Linked DNA regions of Homo sapiens. The protein of the gene in region 2 interacts with the protein of the main gene of each other region in a biochemical or structural test. Each region holds a gene or a part of one and is shown on either strand. Other genes may lie near its edges.

Region 1 (7,000 bases), about 26 Mb from region 2:
GGGACACCCAAGAAATAACAACAGGCTGCATCTGTCTAGCTCTCAAGGGGTTTATGCTCAGATCCCTCAAATCAGGCCAACGTGTGTTAAACAACTAAAGAACAACCTCAGGCGGTTCACGATTGACTATCAACATTTGGGCAGAAATGGTTAGAAAGAATTGGACTCGAGGCACTCCTGTGGTAATGAAGGCTTAGGATCTAAGATAGGTCTTAAAGGTTAGGGCGATGAAGTAGAGGGAGCCTGGATTTTACCTTCTGCTGCTTCCATTTCATAAATTTTGTTTTGTAATAAAGAGAAATGTCAAAATATGTGTTTTAAAGAGAGAGAAATATTAAAATATATGCTAACTTACTGGGTAGAGGAAGACACACAGACAGTCATTGCTTTAAAAAGGAAAGAAACGACTTGAATGTAAAACATCTGTGACCCTTTGAGTAGCTGTTAAAGGTCTGGAGAAAAGGAGATAATTTACACCTAAAAATCATGGGAACTTTAGGTTACATCTTTGGAATCTTGGATATGAAAAGTGCTTAGTGCCAGCCAAGTTTGTGAACCACTTTCAGCAATCAAATCATCCTAAATTTATGTAGGCTTGGCAGTAAGTTAGACCAAGACCTCACTGTCTGCTGGAAGAGAAGAAAAACTGATAATGGACTGATCACGAACCGTGAAATGGAACTAACAGAACTGATCCCTGGGGAGGAGAGTGGAGTTGAAAATGAAATGCCCGGGGAAGTTTGGTGGCTCCTGCCCAACTCAGGCTAGTATTCATTTCCAAGAAGTTCCAATCTGGTGGAAGGGACACAGCAATAGAACATCCACCAAGGGGATCCCGATACCGATGGTCTCTTCATTCCCACAGCAAGAGGAAACGTGGCCATGGGGCTGACAAGAGCTAGGCAGTGTCAAGGTGAGACTTCAGCCCCTGGTAGGAATCTGGACAGCTCTGCAGGAAGCCAGAGGAGAGGCGCTGGTGGTGGGCAGAGGAAACACGTGGGTGTCCAGGGCCTGCCCTAAAGGAGGAAGACACCAGTGATGGCCAGACTGCATTTAGGGGCCTATATTCTCACTCTGCCAGTAGGTCTCAGTGGGGAAATGAGACCATCCTCCTAGAGATGTGCAGGATGTCCAGGTGCAGGTGAGACTCCAGCTGACGTTCAAACCTTCCGCTCCCTCCTTTCTCTGCTGCCTCACGCAGGGTGTGGGAGGCGGCTGACATGCTGACCTGAACAACGTATTGTCCCGGGATAGTGTAAGGCTAGAGGGCGGGTCAGGTCCCAGAGCAGGCTCCTCCTACAGGTAACAAGTAGGACGAATAAAATAAGTATCTGTACCTAAGACACTATCATCACCATCATAGCCAACACTTCTGTAGTACTTAGGTGTGTGTAGAAGAGACAATAGAGCAATATCTTCAAAGTGCTGGAGAAAAGTAACTGAAAACTCCGTCAAACCATAATTCAAGAGTGTGGGTAAAATAAGACATTCTCAGACATACGAAGGCCAACCGAGTTTACTGCCTGCAAACCTAAAAGAACCGAAGAAAGGGCCTACTTCAGAGGAAAAAAAGGGAACCCAGAGGAAAGACTCAGGAAACAAGTAACAATCATAGATACAACGGGGTCAAATATTGATATAAAATGTGGCAATGAATTTTGTGTTAAAAAGTGTGAAACCAAAGCTGTAAACAATCTCATGTCAATGACATACAATCAAATAATTCAGACTTTCTTAGAAAAAATTATTAAAAGAAAATTTTCTTTCAAAAGTAATGTTATTCATAATTAGTCCAAAAATACACCCTATAGTTTTAACATCAGTGAAAGACAATAAATCTAGAAAACCTTACCAACACGTGATAAAAGTGACATCAGCAAAGGAGAAAATGAACTATTCAGTAAATAGCAGGATACTTGGTATTTGGGTACCAACTCATCCCCACTGATAGGACTTTCTCAGTTTTAGCACTGAAAGGTCCCATAGCCCAGAAAACCTGAAAACCCTAGGCAAACCAGGAAAATTGGTCATCCTGCTTGGTATCCAAATATATAAAAATGTATTTATATTCCTACATAGCACCATATACAAAAATCAATTCCCACCTTAAAAAAAAGATCAGCTGGGTGCGGTGGCTCACGCCTGTAATCCCAGCACTTTGGGAGGCCGAGGCCGGCAGATCACATGAGGTCGGGAGTTCGAGACCAGCCCTACCAACATGGAGAAAACTCGTTTCTACTAAAAATACAAAATTAGTCAGGCATGGGGGCACATGCCCATAATCCCAGCTACTCAGGAGGCTGAGGCAGGAGAATCGCTTGAACCTGGGAGGCAGAGGTTTCGGTGAGCCGAGATTGCACCATTGCACTTCAGCCTGGGCAACAAGAGCAAAACTCCATCTCAAAAAAATAAATAAATAAAAAATAAAACACAAAAATTAGCCAGGCATGGTGGCGCACACCTGTAGTCCCAGCTACTCAGGAGGCTGAGGTGGGAGGATCGCTTGAGCCCAGGGAGGTTGAGGCTGCAGTGAATGATGATTGTGCCATTGCACTCCAGTGTGTGTAACAGAGTGAGACTCTGTCTGAAAAACAAAAACAAAAAAAAAAGAAAAGAAAAACCTATACCCTGGAAAAACTTCTCACACCCCTGCAAAAAAAGGAGACATGTATGAGAAGATTCACTACAGCATTCATCTGAGTGAGAAAAATTTAAAATGGTTCTAAAGGGTATAGACAGGAGAATGGATGAATATATTGTGGTATAGTTATACAATCCACTACCATACAGCACTTAAATTCATATACTAGAAAAACAAAACTAAACAAATAAATAAGTTAGGCGTGGTGGCTTATGCCTGTAATCCCAGCACTTTGGGAGGCCAAGGCAGAAGGATTGTTTGAGCCCAGGAGTTCGAGACCAGCTGGGGCAACACAGCGAGACCATGTCTCCACTAAAAAAAAAAAAAAAAAAAGTTAGCCCGGCATGGTGGCATGTGCCTGTAGTCCCAGCTACTCTAGAAGCTGAGGTGGAAGGATCACTTGAACCCAGGAGTTCAAGGCTGCAGTGAGCTATGATCATGCTACTGCACTCCAGCCTGGGCAACAGAGTGAGACCTTGTCTCAGAAATAAATAAATTCATATGCTAGAGGGAAAAAAAATTATAAAGCAATACATGTTACATAATTACATTTATACTATGTTTAAAAATATGTTTATGAATATAATATAGTAGCATAATTATGAATTGGAATGGTAAACAGTAAGTTAAAAATGGTGGCTCTCTCTAGGGTAAAGAGAGGAAGAAATGAGATGGGGAAAAGTACACAGCAAACTTCAACTGTTTTAATAGTGAATTTCCTTGTTTTTTTTCACCACACTTTTGAGATTTATCCATATTAATATACATAGTCAAGTCAATTTTCAAGAAAAGTAAATGGCAATTTCTTTTCTAAGTACTTGTGAATCTTTCTCAACATTTTGCTGTAAGGCCTTCTGGTATTTAGTGTTATAAGGGAAGGCATGCTGATTCTTGTTCAGTTGAATATAAAGTTTTTTTCCTTTCTAGTAAGTTTTCTCTTTATCACTCAAAATTTTACCAAAATATATCTGGCCATGGGTCTTCTTTTACTGAAACTTCCTAAAACACAGCGAGCAACTATCTTGGCTACTATAGACATCTTCTAGGTCTGCTGTAACAATAACAGTGGACCGAGGTAAAGAAAACTTCACAAAAAAAAATTCTTCTCTTTTTCAAAACCACATTGTCTCTTTAAAACATTCTTACTTGAAATGAGGGAAAAAGTATATCAAAGCTGAAATAAGTTTGCATTATTTAGTTTGCAGTACAGCTTCTGGTTCTCTGAGGAACTCCTGTCAAATTCATCTCTTTTTTCCTCTGCTTTTTCATACCCACTGAGCAGTAATGTGTTTTGCTTACAAAAGAAGCCTCGGAAGTCATGCAGAGAGCGTACCACTCAGATGCCTCTCAAGTTTTTTTTGGTTGGATTTTTTTTTAAAGAAGCCATTATTTACTGAAACTATTTAGCCCTGACATCATGAAAGAAAGAAGTCAAAAGGGTTCCTGCATTTCTAATGATTTTGCCTTTAAAGAAAAATAGAGCTACACACACACACACACACACACACACACTGAAAATTTATAAAACAGTTGTGCTAAAAACAGGCTGAAAAACTTTTATAAAATAGTGTTAAGAAAAGATATAATAAAGAATATAGAAAATACAGTAGCAACAAGATAAAGAAAACCCAAATTGTCAGTGATAAAATCCATTTTCATGTTGATGGGATGCTGAAAGCATTCCTGCAAAAATCATGAATAAGGCAAAATGTCCACAATCTCTACTACTATTTAACAATGTATTTGGCCAGGCGCGATGGCTCACGCCTGTAATCCCAACACTTTGGGAGGCCGAGGCGGGCAGATCACAAGGTCAGCAATTCAAGACCAGCAGGACCAACATAGTGAAACCCCGTCTCTACTAAAAATACAAAAATTAGCTGGGTGTGGTGGTGCGCGCCTGTAGTCCCAGCTACTCAGGAGGCTGAGGGAGGAGAATCACTTAAACCCGGGAGGCGGAGGTTGTAGGGAGCTGAGATCACGCCATTGCACTCCAGCCTGGGAGACAGAGCAAGACCCCGTCTCAAAAAAAAAAAAAAAGTATTTTAGGTGTTAGCTAATTAGACAAGAAAATTAGAGGCCTGAGAATTGGAAATAGGTAAAATTCTTCCTATTTGCAGATGAAACCCGAAGAGAATTATAGCTATAACTGATACAAATACAGAAGAATTCAGAAATAAGAAGGATATAAAATTATCATTAAAATAATACTCTGTAGGCTTCAGGTCTTAAAATGAAGAACACTTCCATTTCAATAATAAAATGCAAATAAATCAATTTAGAAATGGTCAAAACATCTGAACACACATCTCTCCAAAGATGTACAAATAGCTAGTAAATGCATGAAAAGATGTTCCACATCAGTAGTCATTAGCAAGATGCAAATCAAAACCACAATGAAATACCACTTCTCACCCACTTATGAAGCTAGAATAAAAAAGACAACAGTAACTGTTGGCAAGGACATGGAGAAATTGGATCCCTCAAATATTACCATGTGAAATGGTGCAATTGCCTTGTAAAACAGTTTGGGAGTTCCTCAAAATGTTAAAACTCAAGTTACCATATGACTCAGCAGTTCTACTCCGAGGTTTCTACTTGAGAGAAACACAAATATATGTTCGCACGTACTTGCACAGGAATGTGCATAGCAGCATGATTCATGCAGCCAAAATGTGGAAACAACCCGAATGTCTATCTGCTGATGAATGGACAAACGAAATGTGATGTGTCTATCCAAACAATGAGATATTATTCAACTGGAAAAAGAAATGAAGTGCCGATACATGCTACGGCATGGGCTAAGTGCAAAAACATTACGCCAAGTGAAAGGAGACAGCCAGCAAAGATCACATACGGTATGCTCCACAACAGGCAAATCTATAGAGACAGGAAGCGGATTCGTGCTTGCCTAGGGCCGGTAGAGTGGGGAGATACAGGTGATAAGCAGTGACTGCTTACTGGTGGGGTTTCTTTTGGGGGTGATGACAATGTTCTGGAATTAGATAGTAGGGATGGTTGCACAACTTTGTGAGTATACTAAAAACCACTGAATTGTACACTTTAAACAGATAAACTTGACGGCATATGAATGATAGCTCAATAAAGTGATTAAGAAAGTGGCCGGGCACGGTGGCTCATGCCTGTAATCCCAGCACTTTGGGAGGTCCAGGTGGGTGGATCACTTGAGGTTAGGAGTTTGAAACCAGCCTGGCCAACATGGTGAAACCAAATACAAAAAGTAGCCGGGCGTGTTGGCACATGCCTGTAGTCCCAGCTACTCAGGAGACTGAGGCACAAGAATCGCTTGGTTGCAGTGAGCTGAGATTGCGCCACAGCACTGCAGCCTGGGCAGCAGAGCAAGACTTGGTCTCCAAAAAAAAAAAAATAGCATTCATATTACAACAATAACCAGTTACAAGATGAGATAAAAGTACAAATTCCATTTACGATAACAACAAAAATACTTGGAATAAGTTTACAGACAAATGTACAGAATGTGTATAAGAAAACAAACTCTTTAGAGAAATACAATAGATTTTGATTATGCACTTTATTTTTCTCTACTACTTTTGTATATTTGCCTATAAATATATGAAGCCTCCATTTTGACTGGAAACAAAGCCTAGAGGATGTATACTTTTTAAGATGCAGAAAATGAAATGAAACCCCAATACATTCCTGACAGTCTTACTTTTTTACTATTTTCATTTTTTTAATTTTTGTATTAAATAGAGACAGGGTCTCGCTATGATGCCCAGGCTGGTCTTAAACTCCTGGCCTCAAGTGATCCTCCTGCCTTGGCCTCCCAAAGTGCTGGGGTTACAGGCATGAGCCACCGCGCCGAACCCTTTTTTACTATTTTCTAATGAATGTTTTTATTTAAAAAATCATTATTCTAAGTATAATTGAACACAATAATTTCTAACTCTTTCTCAATAGTAGAAACCACAACGTTTATTTATATTTCTAGTACCTTATTGTCACACTTTTGGTTTGCTTGGGAAAACTAACTGGGGTCATTTTTTTTTCCAAGTAGAGGAAGAAATTCTATTAATACTTGGGGATCTGAAGTTCTCTTTAAAGTATTTGTAAAAAATCTTTTCTTGGCAGGGACTGAGCTGTCAACATGTGAATGTCTTTTTTTTGCAGTCTCACTGTTAGAAACCAGGAAGATCAGAGGCCCACAATAGCTTCCCACGAACTCAGAGCAGATCTTCCAACCTGGGAAGAAAGGTGAAATCACACGTTTTTTTTACCTCACTAAACTAACAGAAATACTAACCTCTTTCTTTTCTTTGCCTTGTATGTTTCAACAGAACACATACTTTCTCTAACTGTAATTTAGTAATATCCAAT
Region 2 (5,877 bases):
GCTGCAGACAAGCAGTATTAGCATCTTCTGGGAATATGTTAGAAATGCACATTTTCAGGCTTCCAGAGACCTCAGGAATCCAAAGCTCTGGAGGCAGGACTCAGAAATCTCTTTTTAACAAGCCGTTCACATAACTTGGAAGCACACTGACATTTGAGGCCCTCTGGCCTCACTGGTCTGGCAGGTTTGGAGGTGTTCTTTTTTTCCCCCCATTGTGAATTATGCTCTTTTATTTATTTATTTTTCTTTTAAATTTTTTTTTGCTTTTTTATTTCTATAGGTTTTTGGGAAACAGGTGGTATTTGGTTACATGAGTAAGTACTTTCGTGGTTATTTGTGAGAGTTTGGTACACCCATCACCCAAGCAGTATATGCTGCACCCAACTTGGAGATGTTCTTCTGAGGACCTCAAATAAGGGAAGAAGAAGTCATGAGATGTGGGCACTGTGGTCTGGAGCCAACCACTCACCTTTCCCTCCTCTGCTTTTTCGCTTTTTTTTTTTTTTTTTTTTTTTGAGACATGGTCTCGTTCTGTCACCCAGGCTGGAGTGCAGCGGTGTGATCTCAGCTCACTGCAGCCTTGATCTCCCCAGGCTCAGGTCATTCTCCTATCTCATCCTTTCAAGTAGCTGAGACTACAGTTACTCCCCAGCATGCCTGGCTACTTTTTGTATTTTTTTTTGTAGAAAAGATATTTCACCTTGTTTCCCAGGCTGGTCTCGAACTCCTCCCTTCAAGTGATCTGCCTGCCCTGGCCTCCCAAAGTGTTGGGATTACAGGCATGAGCCACCGTGCCCGGCCTGCTTCTTCATCTTTGAGATTAGGCAGCTGGACTGGTCAGCAGTTTCAGTTCTCATACAAAGTACTATGAGAAGTTTGTCAAATATTTCTAATATTTCAGAAACTTCTTAGAAATGATCCATTTTCCCCAAATATGCTGCAGAGGGCTGACCAACATATCATGTTTGCTGTTTTGGGGCCCAAATAAGCTACTGGATTATGAGCTTCTTGTGGTCATTCATGTTCATGTTTCCAGGGCTTATCATAGGGTCTGACCCAATGAGTAATTCGGGTAATGTTTTCCAAACTAAGCTATAGAAAACCAGTATGAAGAGACAACTCATTTCATGCTCATTGGAAGCTCATGTGTTTCACATCAAGCTCAGGCATTGTTTGTAGCAGTATTAGATTCCCACAAATATTAAAGGATATTCAAAATAGAGACCAGGTGGCCGCAACCCTAAACTTGGCTTGTTAGAGCTCCTATGGACCATAGCCCACTGTACTTATTCACAAATCTGTGTGGTTTCAATTATTTATGATTTTCTGCTAAAACTGGATGTGGTTCCTTTGGTCCTGTAAGATCCATTTGGGTCACTGACAGGACCCTGCTGCGCCCATGTGTGCAGTGTGTTTATTGGCAGTACAAAATTCAGCAGTACGTCAGGGATCACATCTTAACAGACGGCCTAGGCTGGGGGAGGCGTTCTGTGGGCCACAGGGGAGAACTTGAGATAATGCCAGGAACCTTCAATGTTTTGAAAAGGGCTCACTTCCTCAGAATTATCAGTCTGCATTTTGTGGTATCTTGTTCAGTCCTGTATGTTTTTAAAGGGAGCAGATTGAAGACCTCTCCCACAGTGTTGGCCCATCAGAGGGCAAGAGAAAAGAGATGCGGCCTGCTGTTCCCAAAGGGAAATGACTCAGCAGGGCACTGGTTTCCTTCAAACTCTCCTTATTATCTCTTTGCTTGTGAGATTGTCTAATTCAGTGGCTGCCCTTTTAAAATCTGAACTCCAGGGTCAGACACATGAAGAGGCAAGAGAACAGACCAAACCTTTATTAGTTCACAGAACTCCAATTCTTTATTAATCACAGCTTGCTCACAATGACATACAGGAAAATAGCACTAATGAAGAGTAAATATGCAGGCAGCAACCTTCAGGAGTTGGGAGTTGGGGAGAAACGACTTCAAAACTGCGATAGGTACTTATGGTGGGTATCTGGTGATTCTTAGTTGGCACAAATGCCCTGCCTAGCCCCCTTAACTGCGTCAGCTTCACAGATGGAGTGTTTTGTTGTTGGTGTTGTTAGTAGGCAGGATTGCCTTACACTGGGGAAGAAAGACCAGCTTGAGTGAAAGTCCGCAGTGTTTTTGATTTTGTTTGTATGTGTGTTTTAATGCAACAACCAGCTCACAGTTTCCAAGTGGAAAAATATTCAGTAGCATCATGTACTTGTACTATAGGTAAGAGCTTAAAATGAACATCATCAATCATGGCATCCACAAATAAGCCACCTGACACATTAATTAATTCATTCCATCAAAAGAACTTAAACTAGAGAATTAAGCCCACTTTATGAAGAGCGATTTCACGGCTGCTTGAACCATTCGAATTTGGATTTGTGTTCAGCACTTTAAAAGGTTCAACTTTTTGCTTCTACCCAGATTGGTCTCAGGTCTGTCTTCTCATCCATCCCTTTCTAAAGCCAAAGCACATTTGTAGCACATAATCCAGGAGAAGCAGAAGTAAATGCTATGACTGGTGGTATTTCTTAGCCTGGTTTTGTAGTTTTTAGGCAGTAAGTAGATTATGAGCGAACAAATGTGAAGGTTCATGTGGAGTCATAATACCTGTGATCTAGGTATGGTCTTAGTCAAGCTCAGAGACAACAAAGCCTTCTAGGTCATTAGGCAATGGTGGGTTTCTAGCACCATAGACTGTCTACTGACCTCATTTTTCTTTTGGAATGGAGTTAGACATGGGGAGCTTCAAAAAGAACAGACCTAGCAAATTCATTTGAGTGGAAAGACACAACATCAAAAGCCTGTTACAGGACATGTAAGATTATGAAATAACTTGCATAATGCAATACTTGTATTTTTTAACAAAAATGTAAGTATTTACAAAATAAGATCCAAGGTATTTTTTAAACATCAAGCAAAACATTCTGCAAAGAGACCGCATTGATTTTTTTTAATTTTTGATTTTTTTTGTTTTTTTTTTTTTATAATGAGTTCTTTTTAAACCATGTCATACATTCCCCATCCTGATATCGCATGATCCATTATAATATAGGCAGGGGGATTTACTATTGGTGGGGCGTGCCAGACCCTCCCTTGCTTCAGCCAGACAGTTCAACCTGGAGTTCCTTGTTCCTGCGCACCTCCGCAGCATGCCTCTCCTAAAAAACACAAAAGGAAGAAGAAATGTCACAGGCCCTTTTTGTCTGGTCCTTTGCGTACCATGCGCTTGACTAGAAGTAACCCAGTTTGGTGTCTACTTTTATGAATTTTTCCCATTTCAGAAGGAAAATATGGGCCCTGCAAAATGTCATGTTAGAAAAGATCTTACAAGACTTACTGTGTTTTAAAAAATATATTTAACACTGTTTTTGTTTAAAACTATGACCAAAAGTTCATGTTATTAAGATAGTTTTGAATATTAGGATCAGAGTATAAATCCAGAGAAAGGTAATAAAACATCACATTATTGTTTCTCTATCATTTCTAATGATGTCGTTCCTTTTGACTAATATTTTAAGGACTTTATAATCCTGATGGACACTCTGGGAGGGCTAGATCCAGGACGAAGACTTTCTATACTGCTTCTTAAACTCTTGACCTGTTTGTCAAGGCCCTTCATAATTGCAGTCCAAGTGACGTTTCCAGTCATAACCCCCATCTTTTCCTACACACACTTGATGTTTCAGTTTAATGGAATTGTCTTGTCATGCAATTTTCAATGCTAGTCTTTCATCTCCACTGGTCAGGATTATAAACTTACTCTTTAAGCCCTATGACCATTGTCCTTTTCTCCATAAAGATTTTTATGAGACTGCAAAGACTAACCTGCAAACTTATCTCACTTTCCATTTGAACACCTGCATAAATCTTTCCTTTTATTCGGCAGTCATTTTATTCTAGTTGTATTATGAGCCTCTCTGTTCTTGTCTCCTCTATTATATTTGACTGTAAGCTCATTGAGGGCCTGGACTATGTTTTATCATTTTTTTTTCCATTTGCAGGGCCTAGCAGAGTGCTTTGCAGATAGCATGTAATTGGTGGATGTTTATTTACATAAGGAACCAAGGTACTAGCCTGGGATTGGGAACTGAACTTCCTGAGGAGGGAACTGATGGAGGAAGTATTTTTTAGTATGTGGCTATACATCAGATGACTAAAATCAGTATTTTTTAGTATGTGGCTATACATCAGATGACTAAAATCAAACTGTCTTGCATATATCATAGGCGCTAAATAAATGTTCATTGAATTGAAATTTTAAGATGCTAATTATTAGTAGTATTATTTATATTTCTGTAGAATGTTGCTTACATTGCTTCTCTCCTTCCCTCTGAAGCTCCAGAAATTGAGACTCTATAGATTCTTTTAGTTCAGAAGAAATAAACTTGACCAGCTATAAAGTAAAACTTATCGTTAAACTCTATTAATCTCAAGGAGTCTACACTTATAGGGTTCTTTATATCATAATACTGAATATTTATTAGGCACTTAATGTGTACCAGACCTGCATCAGTACACGTTTTACCTGTATTAATTCCCTTAATCCTCACAATAATCTTATAGTGGACATTCTATTATTGTCCCCATTTTGCAGATGAAGAAACTGAAACACAGGAAGGGTAAGTAACTTGCCCATCTTCATGATACTAACAAGTGGGATTTAAACCCAGGGAACCTGGCTCTACAGCTCACTCTCTTAATCACTGCTATACAATTTCAATGTTGAGTGAGGAGAACATTTTATAGTTGCATGGAAAAATGTGTCTTTTCAAGTGTAGATTCTGGGAGAAAAAAGGCATAGACCACCCTATACTTCCTTCAAAGATACAGAGTTGGAGTAAGCAGGAAGTTGACTCTAGAGAAAGAGATTAAAAACAATTTTATTTAATTGGTTTAAATGAGCTTTTGTATATGTTCAAAAACCATGAAGAGAAGGAAAGAGGCATGCATAGAGAAATCAAATCCTGTTTGGAAATGTCACAGGGGAAATTAGCATGGATGCAGCTGATTCTTCTTTTTGTTCTGCTATTATAAGGAAAAAGATGAAGCAAAATCTTTTTCTCATGCAGAAAGAAACTAATTAGTGAGAGCTGAGCTCTGGCAAAAATTGAGAAAAAGCCCAGACCATCACTATGCTAGGAAAAAGAAGCCTCAAGTCTAAAGATTCATATAAATTCAAACTGATAACATAGCAGGAAACATTATAATTAGTATTATTAGGCTACTTTGGAGTACACTTCTTGTTAAACTCAAAATTAGTGTTAACAAAATGGATTTTGCCATAGGAAAGAATAAATATAATTTGTGAGCTTGAGATAATGTGGAAAAAGAGAAAATAAATGATTATGAGTTTCTAATTAAAAATTATTTGTTTTCAGGCATTTTAGTCACTCTATTATTTGAACACTTTACGTTCACATTATCGAATATTTACTCATGAACTGTTAATGTGACTTTATATCAAAATGTGGGAGAACAAAAGGCAGTCATGCAGGAAGCATGTAATTTCCCATACAGTCTGTTTTTCTTATCAGCTCACTGTTTGCAATTACTAGACCTTGAATCTAGAGGTTCCTAAAGCAGTTGTGATACTCAGAGAAGGTTCATCAAGAAGACTACTCTTTGATAATATTTATTTCATTATTGATCTCCTGATATTTGCTAGGCACTGTCAGAGGCCCAAGCATATCTAAATTTACAATGTTTTCTGCAATTTACCCCCTTCCTCCCATCAATATAAAGGAAATGTAATACAATATTTTAGCATTGTATGCAGCTATGCCTTTTATATGAAAAAAGATGTATGAAAGTTGATTTTAGGAAAAATTCTGGTCCTCTAATTCTTTCCT

What was found.
Region 1: the proteins of STMN2 (region 2) and RGS20 form a complex in vitro, tested with the Homo sapiens proteins (one study listed by BioGRID).

What each region holds. Positions count from the first base shown.
Region 1 is NC_000008.11:53,939,872-53,946,871, forward strand, and holds part of RGS20 (regulator of G-protein signaling 20), read left to right. Parts: intron 1-6,793; coding exon 6,794-6,877; intron 6,878-7,000. UniProt on the Homo sapiens protein: Inhibits signal transduction by increasing the GTPase activity of G protein alpha subunits thereby driving them into their inactive GDP-bound form.
Region 2 is NC_000008.11:79,662,124-79,668,000, reverse strand, and holds the end of STMN2 (stathmin-2), read right to left. Parts: intron 4,422-5,877; coding exon of another isoform or gene 4,340-4,421; intron 3,187-4,339; coding exon 3,127-3,186; 3' UTR 1,843-3,126; downstream 1-1,842. UniProt on the Homo sapiens protein: Regulator of microtubule stability. When phosphorylated by MAPK8, stabilizes microtubules and consequently controls neurite length in cortical neurons.